2 separate regions of the Homo sapiens genome follow, and region 1 is linked to region 2. The links come from fine-mapping of genetic effects on gene expression. A gene starts in region 2. The other region holds a variant in brackets. All regions are shown on one strand. Distances are from middle to middle. Region 1 overlaps RAB11FIP3 (RAB11 family interacting protein 3). Region 2 holds the start of RAB11FIP3 (RAB11 family interacting protein 3).

Region 1 (5,364 bases), 77 kb after region 2:
CGCCACTGCACTCTAGCCTGGGCGACAGAGCAAGACTGTCTCAAAAAAAAAAAAAAAAAAAAAAGCTCCATCTGCAGTTATCTGTCGTTAGAGTTTACAAAACAGAGACCTCTTCTGCAGTGTGTCTATCCACATGTAAATATATGTACACAAGATTTAATCTGTTGTTTTGCCCCAAATCTGCCACAAGAGGCTAAGGAAGAGCAAAATAAACGTCGCGATTCGCTTCTCACAGTTCTCAGCCCTTCGCGCTGAACTATTGCTGAGATGGTGGGTTTTGCCAGCAGCCATTGTAGCCCCCGGGCCTGGCTGCATTGCTCACCTCCCTCAGCCTTGTTCTGTCCCTGTCCATGAGATGGAAGTGGCTTTCTCCAGTCAGCTGTGTGTGCAGAGACCGGGGGCTCCGGGCAGAGCCGAGTCCATCAGGACTGGAGGAAGTGCTCACAGCAGGCAGGCTCCCTGGGCCCTGGGTGGGAGGCCTCAGGGATCCCCGTACCTCCTTGCTCACCAGCCAGGCTCGACCTACTGCCCTGTGGGGCAGGTCAGGCTTTTTCCACAGCTCCCTCTCTGGGAGGAGGGTCCTTCCAAGTGAGGGTGTGGTGTAGCTGGAGAATCCCTCTTTCTAGGGGATTTAAATAAGCAGCCCCAGCCGGACGCGGTGGTTCACGCCTGTACTCCCAGCACTTTGGGGGGCCGAGGCGCACAGATCACGAGGTCAGGAGTTTGAGACCAGCCTGGCCAACATAGTGAAACCCCATCTCTACTAAAAAAAACAATACAAAAAGTTAGCTGGGCATGGTGGCAGGTGCCTGTAATCCCAGCTACCTGGGAGGCTGAGGCAGGAGAATGGCTTGAACCCGGAAGGCAGAGGTTGCAGTGAGCTGAGATTGCACCACTGCACTCCAGCCCAGGTGACAGTGCAAGACTCTGTCGCAAAAAAAAAAAAAAAAAAAAAAAAAAAAATTAAATAAGTAAATAAATAAGCAGCCGCATGACCCATGCTGAGGACCCTCTGCCTCACGTTGGTGGCCACGTGTGGTGGCTGCACGCTGGGTGCCTGGGGATGGCTGTGTCCCCGAGTCAGCCCCAGAAGTGCCTACGCCTCTAGGACAGCTCAGAAGTGCTGACAGGTCGTGGCCTCTCAGGATGGGCTCTGGGTTGCAGCTTCATGCCTGGAGTGGCTCATGTTTGGGGGCAAGGTCATGGGCGTTTAAGAGCAGCGACTGGCCAAGAACATGATCTGTATCAGCAGCAGCTTTTGAGAATCTGATGAAATCCCCAGAGCCCCAGAAGGGCACCGGTGTGTTCCAGCTGGTGCACGTTCACAGGGCTTGTCTCCTCAGAGCGTTTATGGGGAAAAAGATGGAAATGTTCAAGCCCAGTCCGTACTGAGAAGCAAATCGAACTTCATACACTTGGTAGACATTTTCAGTGGAAAAATATTAACATTTTATGGAATTCTTACTCTGCTACGTCCCTAGCCAAGCTGTTTGTATGCATGACCTTGGTTAAACCTCAGTTGCCTCTAGACCCCCATTTCATAGGCAAGGAAGCTGGGAGAGGGTCCCCCCATTTCATAGGCAAGGAAACTCGGAGAGGGTCCCCCCATTTCATAGGCAAGGAAGCTCGGAGAGGGTCTCCCATTTCATAGGCAAGGAAGCTGGGAGAGGGTCCCCCCATTTCATAGGCAAGGAAGCTCGGAGAGGATCCCCCCATTTCATAGGCAAGGAAGCTGGGAGAGGGTCCCCCCATTTCATAGGCAAGGAAGCTCGGAGAGGGTCCCCCATTTCACAGGCAAGGAAGCTGGGAGAGGGTCCCCCATTTCATAGGCAAGGAAGCTGGGAGAGGGTCCCCCCATTTCACAGGCAAGGAAGCTGGGAGAGGGTCCCCCCATTTCACAGACAAGTTCAGAGAGGCTCCCCCCATTTCATAGGCAGGGAAGCTGGGAGAGGGTCCCCCCATTTCACAGACAAGTTCGGAGAAGGTCCCCCATTTCATAGGCAAGGAAGCTGGGAGAGGGTCCCCCCATTTCACAGGCAAGGAAGTTCAGAGAGGGTCCCCCCATTTCACAGACAAGGAAGTTCGGAGAGGATCCCCCATTTCATAGGCAAGGAAGCTGGGAGATGGTCCCCCCATTTTATAGGCAAGGAGTCTGGGAGAGTGTCCCCCCATTTCATAGGCAAGGAGGCTGGGAGAGGGTCCCCCCATTTCATAGGCAAGGAGGCTGGGAGAGGGTCCCCCCATTTCATAGGCAAGGAAGCTCGGAGAGGGCCAGTGCTTTTTAACGGTCACGCAGTTCTGAGCATCAGGCTGTCAGCCTGGAGCCTGGCTTGGTACTGAGGTTCCCAGGATGTATAAAGAACTGAACACGCACCTTTGCTGTTGGCTCTTCTGTGCGAGTGCTCTGAGAGTTTTCTGTACTCCCGGCAAGTTTGGGTTGGTACAGATTCACCACAGCGAATCTGACCACGTGGTGACCACAAGCACGCGCTTACTGCGCGCCTAAGTTCACACTCCCTGGAGAAGCTCCTGCCCCAAGGCCGCAGCCTATGGGCCTTTGCGTCTACTCAGGACCATGAGGCTGTGTCCCCGAGCCTGGCCCGGGTAGTAACTGGCATGGCCTGCGGTGCTGGGGGCGTGTCCACAGGAGCTGGTGCCACAGAGGACACGTGTGTCTGCTGTCTTCCTGGACTC[G/A]GTCGGACCAGTTTCCCAGTGTGTCCGTGAGGGTGACACTGAGTGAGACTTCTGGGATCCACACCTTTCCTGGGACCCTCACTCTTCCTGCCACAGAAAGCACCTGTGAAAGTCTGAGATCAAGAATGTGCACAGGGGAGGTGTCTGCAGGTCAAGGTCCTGAGCTGATGTCTCACAGGCCTCTGGTAGAGACGAGATTGTTCGTGTCTCTGCGAAGAAGGGCATGTTTTATTGCAGCCAAGTACAAAGTCCTCTCTGCCACTCGCTGGCTGGGACTGAGGTCATGTTCTGTCAGGTTCCAAAGAGCGCCAGGAAGACTCTGAGACCACAGAGCACGGCCTGCTTTCTCCCAGCCCCTGGTAAAGATGTCCAGCCTGGGACCTCCCCCTGTATATAGTGCTTTAAGTGGGAGAAGACCACCACCCAGATCAGGGGAGGACCTGTCCCCTGCAATGCTGCTGCCTGCTTTTCAGATTGACTTGGGAGTGCTTGTGCTGACGGAGCATGTCCTGTGGTTTTTCCCTTTCTTCCCTCTGTTGTTGTGCCTTTTCTGTAGGTACCTGCACCAGTCAGGGGCCCTGACCATGGAGGCCCTGGAGGACCCTTCCCCCGAGCTCATGGAGGGCCCAGAGGAGGACATTGCTGACAAGGTAGGCCCTGGAGGGCTGGGTAGGTGGCAAGTAGGGGATTTAGAACACAGCCACGCCTAAGGGCCGCTGCAGACACCCCGGGAGGTGGGGACAGCACAGCCGGAGGTGACCCCATGTCCTCCAGGGCTCCCCAGACTGTCCATCCAGCCCCGATGCTCTTTGGCAGGTTTCCCCAAGGGGTCTCGTGGCCATGTGAGAAAAAGGAGTCTTCCTGTTGTGCACGAAGGGCCAGCTGGGAGGAGTGGACTGGGCAGTGAGTGAGCACCCTCGGGTATCCCACCCCCACTGTGTCTGAGTCGGGCTGGGGGACACCCAGACATTCAGTCCACCAGGCCCATGGAGACGCGACCTGGGGCACCCATGATTTGGGAGAAAAGGGCTGGCCCTGCAGTTACTGCAGAGCCAACAGCCTGAGGAACGGGCTTCTCCTGGGGCCTTGAATGGAATGGGTGACAGCAGCCAGGGCAAGGCAGCCTTGCCGTGGTCAAGACCCGCTTTTCAGCCAGATGTGGTGGCTCACGCCTGGAATCCCAGCACATTAGGAGGCCTAGGCGGGCAGATCACTTGAGGTCAGGAGTTTGAGATCAGCCTGGCCAACATAGTGAAAACCCGTCTCTACTAAAAATACAAAAGTTAGCCACGCATGGTGGCGGGCAACTGTAATCCCAGCTATTTGGGAGGCTGAGGCAGGAGAATCACTTGAACCTGGGAGGTGGAGGTTGCAGTGAGCCGAGATTGCACGACTGCACTCCAGCCTGGGCGACAGAGGGAGACTCCGTCTCACCTTCTGCACCCCCTCACCTTCTGTGACCCCTTCACTTACTCCTGTACCCCCTCAATTCCTCCTGTACCCCTCATCTCCTCCTGTACCCCCTCACCACCTCCTGTACCCCCTCACCACCTCCTGTACCCCCTCACTACCTCCTGTACCCCCTCACTACCTCCTGTACCCCCTCACCTCCTCCTGTACCCCCTCACCTCCTTGTGTACCCCCTCACCTCCTGTACCCCCTCACCTCCTCCTGTACCCCCCCACCTCCTCCTGTACCCCCTCACCTCCTCTTGCACTCCCATCTCCTCCTGTACCCCCTCACCTCCTTGTGCACCCCCTCACCTCCTGTACCCCCTCACCTCCTCCTGTACCCCCTCACCTCCTCCTGTACCCCCTCACCTCCTCCTGTACCCCCCTCACCTCCTCCTGTACCCCCTCACCTCCTCCTGCACTCCCATCTCCTCCTGTACCCCCTTACCTCCTTGTGCACCCCTCACCTCCTGTACCCCCTCACCTCCTCCTGTACCCCCCTCACCTCTTCCTGCACTCCCATCTCCTCCTGTACCCCCTCACCTCCTTGTGCACCCCTCACCTCCTGTACCCCCTCACCTCCTCCTGTACCCCCCTCACCTCTTCCTGTACCCCCTCACCTCCTCCTGCACTCCCATCTCCTCCTGTACCCCCTCACCTCCTTGTGCACCCCTCACCTCCTGTACCCCCTCACCTCCTCCTGTACCCCCCTCACCTCTTCCTGTACCCTTCACTTCCTCCTGTACCCCCTCACCTCCTCCTGCACCCCCCTTACCTCCTGTACCCCCTCACCTCCTCCTGTACCGCCTCACCTCCTCCTATACCCCCTCACCTCCTCCTATACCCCCTCACCTCTTCCTGCACCCTCCTCACCTCCTCCTGCACCCCCATCTCCTCCTGTACCCCCCTCACCTCCTGTACCCCCTCATCTCCTGTACCCCCTTACCTCCTCCTGCACCCCTCACCTCCTGTACCCCCTCACCTCCTCCTGCTCCCCCACCTCCTCCTATACCCCCATCTCCTCCTGTACTCTCTCACCTCCTCCTGTACCTCCTCACCTCCTCCTGTACTTCACCTCCTCTTGCATCCCCACCACCTCCTCCCTACAACTTCTCTAGCATCTCAAGTCTGCTGACCCAGGCCAAGTCCTCCTCTGCTCCCTTCACTCCTTCTCCTACCTCCGCAGGTGTCTGATTCTCATCTTGGTGTGAACTCTCTG
Region 2 (5,364 bases):
AATACAAAAAATTAGCCGGCCTTGGTGGCATACGCCTGTAATCCCAGCTACTCAGGAGGCTGAGGTAGGGGAATCACTTGAACCCGGGAGGCGGAGGTTGCAGTGACCAGAGATCGCGCCATTGCACTCCAGCCTGGGCGACAGAGTGAGACTCCATATCAAAAAAAAAAAAAAGATAATAAGGTGCTGCAGATCTGTGGTCTCAGCTACTGGAGAGGCTGAGGTGGGAGGATCTCTCTTCTATTTTTATTTTTTATTTTGGAGACGGAGTCTTGCTCTATCATCCAGGCTGGAGTGCAATGGTGCAATCTTGGCTCGCTGCAAGCTCTGCCTCCCGGGTTCACGCCTTTCTCCTGCCTCAGCCTCCCAAATAGCTGGGACTACAGGTGCCTGCCACCACACCTGGCTAATTTTTGTTTTTTTGTATTTTTAGTAGAGACGGGGTTTCACCGTGTTAGCCAGGATGGTCTCCATTTTCTGACCTCGTGATCCGCCCGCCTCAGCCTCCCACAGTCCTGGGATTACAGGCATGAGCTACCACACCTGGCCTAAGGTGGGAGGATCTCTTGAGCCTAGGAGGTTGAGGCTGCCGTGAGCTATGGTCGCACCACTGCACTGCAGCCTGGGCAACAGAGCAAAACCCTGTCTCGGGGAAAAAAAAGAAAAGAAAAGAAAAGAAGGAACTGCTACAGCCCACAGCCTACAAAGGGGACACAGATAGTAGCTCTGAACAGCAGACGGATAGACGGGAACTTGTCCCTTTAGTCTTTCATGAACAGCCTCTAACTGGTCCAGGCAGGGAGGTGCAGGCTTCCAGGCTGTGGTTCCATGGAGGACACCAGCCGGGCACGCAATGGACGTTTTCCAGCCCTAGCACAGACAGAGCGTGCGGGCCCCTGCTCTCAGAAAGCCAGCCTTCTGCCTCTGGCAGCGCCGGCACATAAAAGCAGAGGGAGCCTGCTGTCTCTGCCTCGCCCACACTAACACCCCTATTTAGAAAGGTTGACACATCACTATCACTGCTTCTGAAAATTTTATCCGGCCGAAGGCATCAGCCCAAATTTGAATTCTTGCCAAAGCTGCTGGTGATTTCGTTCTTTGAATGCAGTATCTTCCTCATGAACACGTACAGCTCTTACAAGAAAATGAGAATACGGTTTGGGGAGGAGGATCCCTCACATTCCTTTTCCTAATGCCAGCCTCGCGAAGTCTGGTCCCATGTACCCTGGGATTCTGCCACGGAAGATGACTCACTTAATTAACACGCTGCTCCTGACCGTACACTTGGAAGCAGAGGTTCCGTTCCTTTGGTTCTTGCCAAAGCTGCTTACGAAACCATATCTTGTGTTGGTGCCCATGGTGTGTAAAAATACAAGTTCATCATTTCCCTGATACAAATTATGACAGGCTAAATTTAGTGCCTCACCTGTCCTAACTAGCTTTCCCACCATCATGCCTGCCGCCGGGCTGTGGTCCTTTCTGAGGTCCCGTGTCCCTCTGAGGACAGGGACACCCAGACACAGAGGTCAGTTGTCAGACGCGGCCACGGTGCTCGGGAGGCTGGCTGCAGACGGGCGATTCACCCTGGGTGTCTTCTTGAGTCTTATTTTTTGTAGAGACGAGGTCTCGCTTTGGTGCTCAGGCTGGTCTCAATCTCCTGGGCGCAAGCGATCCTCCCGCTTGGGCGTGGGCCAGCGCGCCCGTCCCAACGCTGGGAGTCCCGGAGATCTTGGTCACAGGCTTAAGGGAAAGGCCTAGCGCGTGGCCGCGCGTGCCTCTGGTTTCAAGGGACATGGACTGCGTGTCTGGGGCCCCTCCGCACTCCGTGTCAGACCCTGCGTCCCCCGGGTCCGCGCGGGACCCGGGCAGGGCGTCGCCCTCTGCGGCGTCTGCGCCCCGCGAACCCTGGGGCACCTGCAACCCCTGGGCCGCGGAGCCAGGCGTGCGCCGCCTCCTGGTCTCATCAACGTGAGAACGCTTTACCCCCGAAGAGCTCAGCTCCTAGGGGGCTATGTCCCTTTGCGTCTCTCGCTCGCCAGGCGGTGCCGTTTACTCGACCGCACCATGCGTGGGTAGCGGTCGCGCCCGCTGGTAGCTGTGCGGCGGGAACACGTTCTAAGTAAGGCCTGACTCCGCGCGCCTCTTGCCAGGGACGTCACGTCACGCCTCCACTCGCAGCCTCGGAGCACCCCCGCGTCCCGCGCCCGAAGCTCGGGACCCCCGCTCTGGCGAAACGAGGAATATGACATACAGCAAAACACCCCTTCGCGGCCGCTGCACTGCCGCGACACACCCGGCGCCTGCCTCTACAGCAAGCCGGCGAGGGGCTGGGACCCCGCCGGGACGTGCTGACGTCAGGCCCGACGGGGGGCGGGGCCTGGGCGGCGGCGGCGTTAGTTCTCCGGGTACCTCAGGCGCCTCAGCCTCCTTAGTCTCCTCATCCTGCTTCACAGGCTCCGCGGCCTCCGGCCTCCTCGGCCCCCGTCCCCCGGCCTCCTCGGCCCCCGTCCCCCGCCATCCGCCGCCCGGATCCTCGCCGCCCTCCCTAGGCCGCCCCGCCGCCATGGGCCTGCGCCCGCCGCGCCGCCGGGCCGAGGGCAGCTGAGGCGCGGTGCGAAGATGGGCGAGGACAGAGCAGGGCCCGAGCGCCAGCCCCAGCAGCCCGGGCGCCCCGCGCGCGCCCGCCCGCGCCGCCGAGGGGATGCCCGCGCCCGCCGCCGCGCCCTGAGCGCCTTTGTCTGCCGCCCGCGCCCTTCCGCACCACTAGCCTCTCGGGAGCATGGCGTCGGCCCCGCCGGCCTCGCCCCCGGGCTCGGAGCCGCCGGGGCCCGACCCGGAGCCGGGCGGGCCGGACGGGCCGGGGGCGGCACAACTGGCTCCGGGCCCTGCGGAGCTACGCCTCGGAGCGCCCGTCGGCGGCCCCGACCCGCAGTCCCCGGGCCTGGATGAGCCTGCGCCCGGGGCCGCTGCAGATGGCGGGGCGCGTTGGAGCGCCGGGCCGGCCCCGGGGCTGGAGGGAGGCCCGCGAGACCCCGGGCCGTCCGCCCCGCCGCCGCGCTCCGGCCCGCGGGGGCAGCTTGCGAGCCCCGACGCCCCGGGCCCAGGGCCGCGCTCCGAAGCGCCGCTTCCAGAACTCGACCCGTTGTTCTCCTGGACTGAGGAGCCCGAGGAGTGTGGCCCCGCGAGCTGCCCGGAGAGCGCGCCTTTCCGCTTGCAGGGGTCCAGCAGCAGCCACCGAGCGCGGGGCGAGGTCGACGTCTTCTCTCCCTTCCCCGCGCCCACGGCGGGCGAGCTGGCGCTGGAGCAAGGTCCCGGGTCCCCGCCGCAGCCCTCGGACCTCAGCCAGACCCACCCCCTTCCGAGCGAGCCCGTGGGGAGTCAGGAGGACGGCCCCCGCCTCCGAGCCGTGTTCGATGCCCTGGACGGGGATGGGGACGGTTTCGTCCGCATCGAGGACTTCATCCAGTTTGCTACGGTCTACGGGGCAGAGCAGGTACGGAGCGGCCCGGGCCGGGGCGTGGGAACTGGGCAGGTGCGCGCTGGCCGGCGGGGTTGATGTGGGACCGGTCGACGCTGCCCCTGGAGTCGGGAAAGGCACTGTCAAGACCTGACGGTCCTGCTTTTTCTGCTTATTCACCACTTCGGCCCTGGATTTCTGGTTGAATTGCGCTGGAGTCCCTCTTCCCTTCTTAAAAGGAGGTTCTATTCTGGGGAGTCAGTTTCTTCCCCTCCCCCCAGCGCCTCGTCAGCTGGATCTTACCGAGGTCAGCTCCTCGCCTGGGGACACCCCCCCAGGGGGCCTGATCGCCACCCCCCCAGGGTGCCTGATCGACGTGCCCCTGAATGAAGAAGTTCCCCGCGATTCCCCCACCCGAGGGCCCAGATACTGCTCGGCTGAATTCACCCAAGTTCTAGCCGCAGAGGCCAGGCTGCCCAGACGCCTTGAGATCCTACTGATAGACACCTATTTTGAGTACAATTACTTTACTGTGTGTGGTTGACATCTTTTCTACTTAGATTTCATCTTTTATTTGGGAGACAGTCAATGCTTGTAGAGAGTCCTGGAATTAAGAATTTTTACTTTGGTGCCTTTGGGGAGGAAGGCAATGAGCCTCGGAGCTTGTTGGCAAATGCAGAAGTCTAGCAGAACTCCGTTAGGGCCACGTCCACTCTCGTAGGAGAGGTGAAATGCGTGGACAGGCACTACGCACAGTACAGTGTGGAAGGGGTCCACGCGGTCCTCAGGGCACCTGCTCCTGGGGGAAAGGTGGGCCCCAAGATGCAGTTGTTCCTGTCTACCTCAGCACTTAATAAAGTTTAAGTGGAGATAACAGCAGGGCCGTGTGTGTTCTGCCAATAACCCGGTGGACATCAAATAATACCAGTGCTCACTTTTAAATATTTTACTTAGCAGGAAATCCCTAAGGTGCATCTGTCAATTTTTTGTATTTTGACTTCTCACACATGCAGACATCTGGTAAGTGGGTGTTCAAGTACATATGCATGTTTAAGCCAAGAGGTCTGTAAGAAAAGAGGTAAAATTGGCACACTGCTATTTAGGGTGTCAGTCATAACATTAAGAACCTTGATGGTCGGGCGCGGTGGCTCATGCCTGTAATCCCAGCACTTTAGGAGGCCGAGGCGGGCGGATCACGAGGTCAGGAGATTGAGACCATCCTGGCTAATATGGTGAAACCCCGTCTCCACTAAAAAATACAAAAAAATTAGTCGGGCGTGGTGGCGGGCACCTGTACTCCTAGCTACTCGGGAGGCTGAGGCAGGAGAATGGCGTGAACCCGGGAGGCGGAGCTTGCAGTGAGCGGAGATCGCGCCACTGCACTCCAGCCTGGGCGACAGAGCGAGACTTCGTCTCAAAAAAAAAAAACAGCAACAAAACAAAAAACACAGGGTCCTGATAAATCAGGGTTCCTTGCTGAGTTCACATTAAGAAGATGTGCAGACAGGTGCGTGCGGGGCAGCCTGCAATGCTCGCAAGCTTAGCTCCGGTTGGGATATTGTCAGGGTAGTTTTCCACCTACACTAATGGGCAGTGAAATATGTGACTGATACTTTCCTGTATGGTCAGCGTGGATGGTGGTTGCTGGTCCAGGTGTTTTGCTGCGTTTCCTTCTTGCCCCTGGGCTGGAGAGCACCTTGAGCTCCCTTGGTTGCTGTTGGCTACTGCGCTGTCTCTTCTCCCAAACATACTCTTGCTTCAGTACAGCAAAGAAGTTAGGAGAGTACCACATTTGCTCCTTGTTACCATAACCCAACTCTTGATAGAGAACTTCTGTGAGGCTCAGGATGTTTCCACTGGATCATACCACAGTTCTCTGAGATAGTAGGTAAGCAGGATTCATCCCC

Evidence for each region. PIP is the estimated chance that this variant, and not a neighbour inherited with it, causes the effect.
Region 1: its variant is the best candidate, but not a certain one, in a credible set for the expression of RAB11FIP3 in whole blood (TOPMed, PIP 0.59).

What each region holds. Positions count from the first base shown.
Region 1 is chr16:499,754-505,117 of GRCh38, forward strand. It overlaps RAB11FIP3 (RAB11 family interacting protein 3), which reads left to right. Exons shown (of 14, transcript NM_014700.4): 7 at 3,251-3,344. Among named protein-coding and RNA genes, the nearest start is that of LINC00235, 25 kb to the right of the region's middle. The variant G/A (reference allele first, on the strand shown) is at 2,695.
Region 2 is chr16:423,228-428,591 of GRCh38, forward strand. It overlaps RAB11FIP3 (RAB11 family interacting protein 3), which reads left to right and starts at 2,422. Exons shown (of 14, transcript NM_014700.4): 1 at 2,422-3,493. The coding sequence starts at 2,780.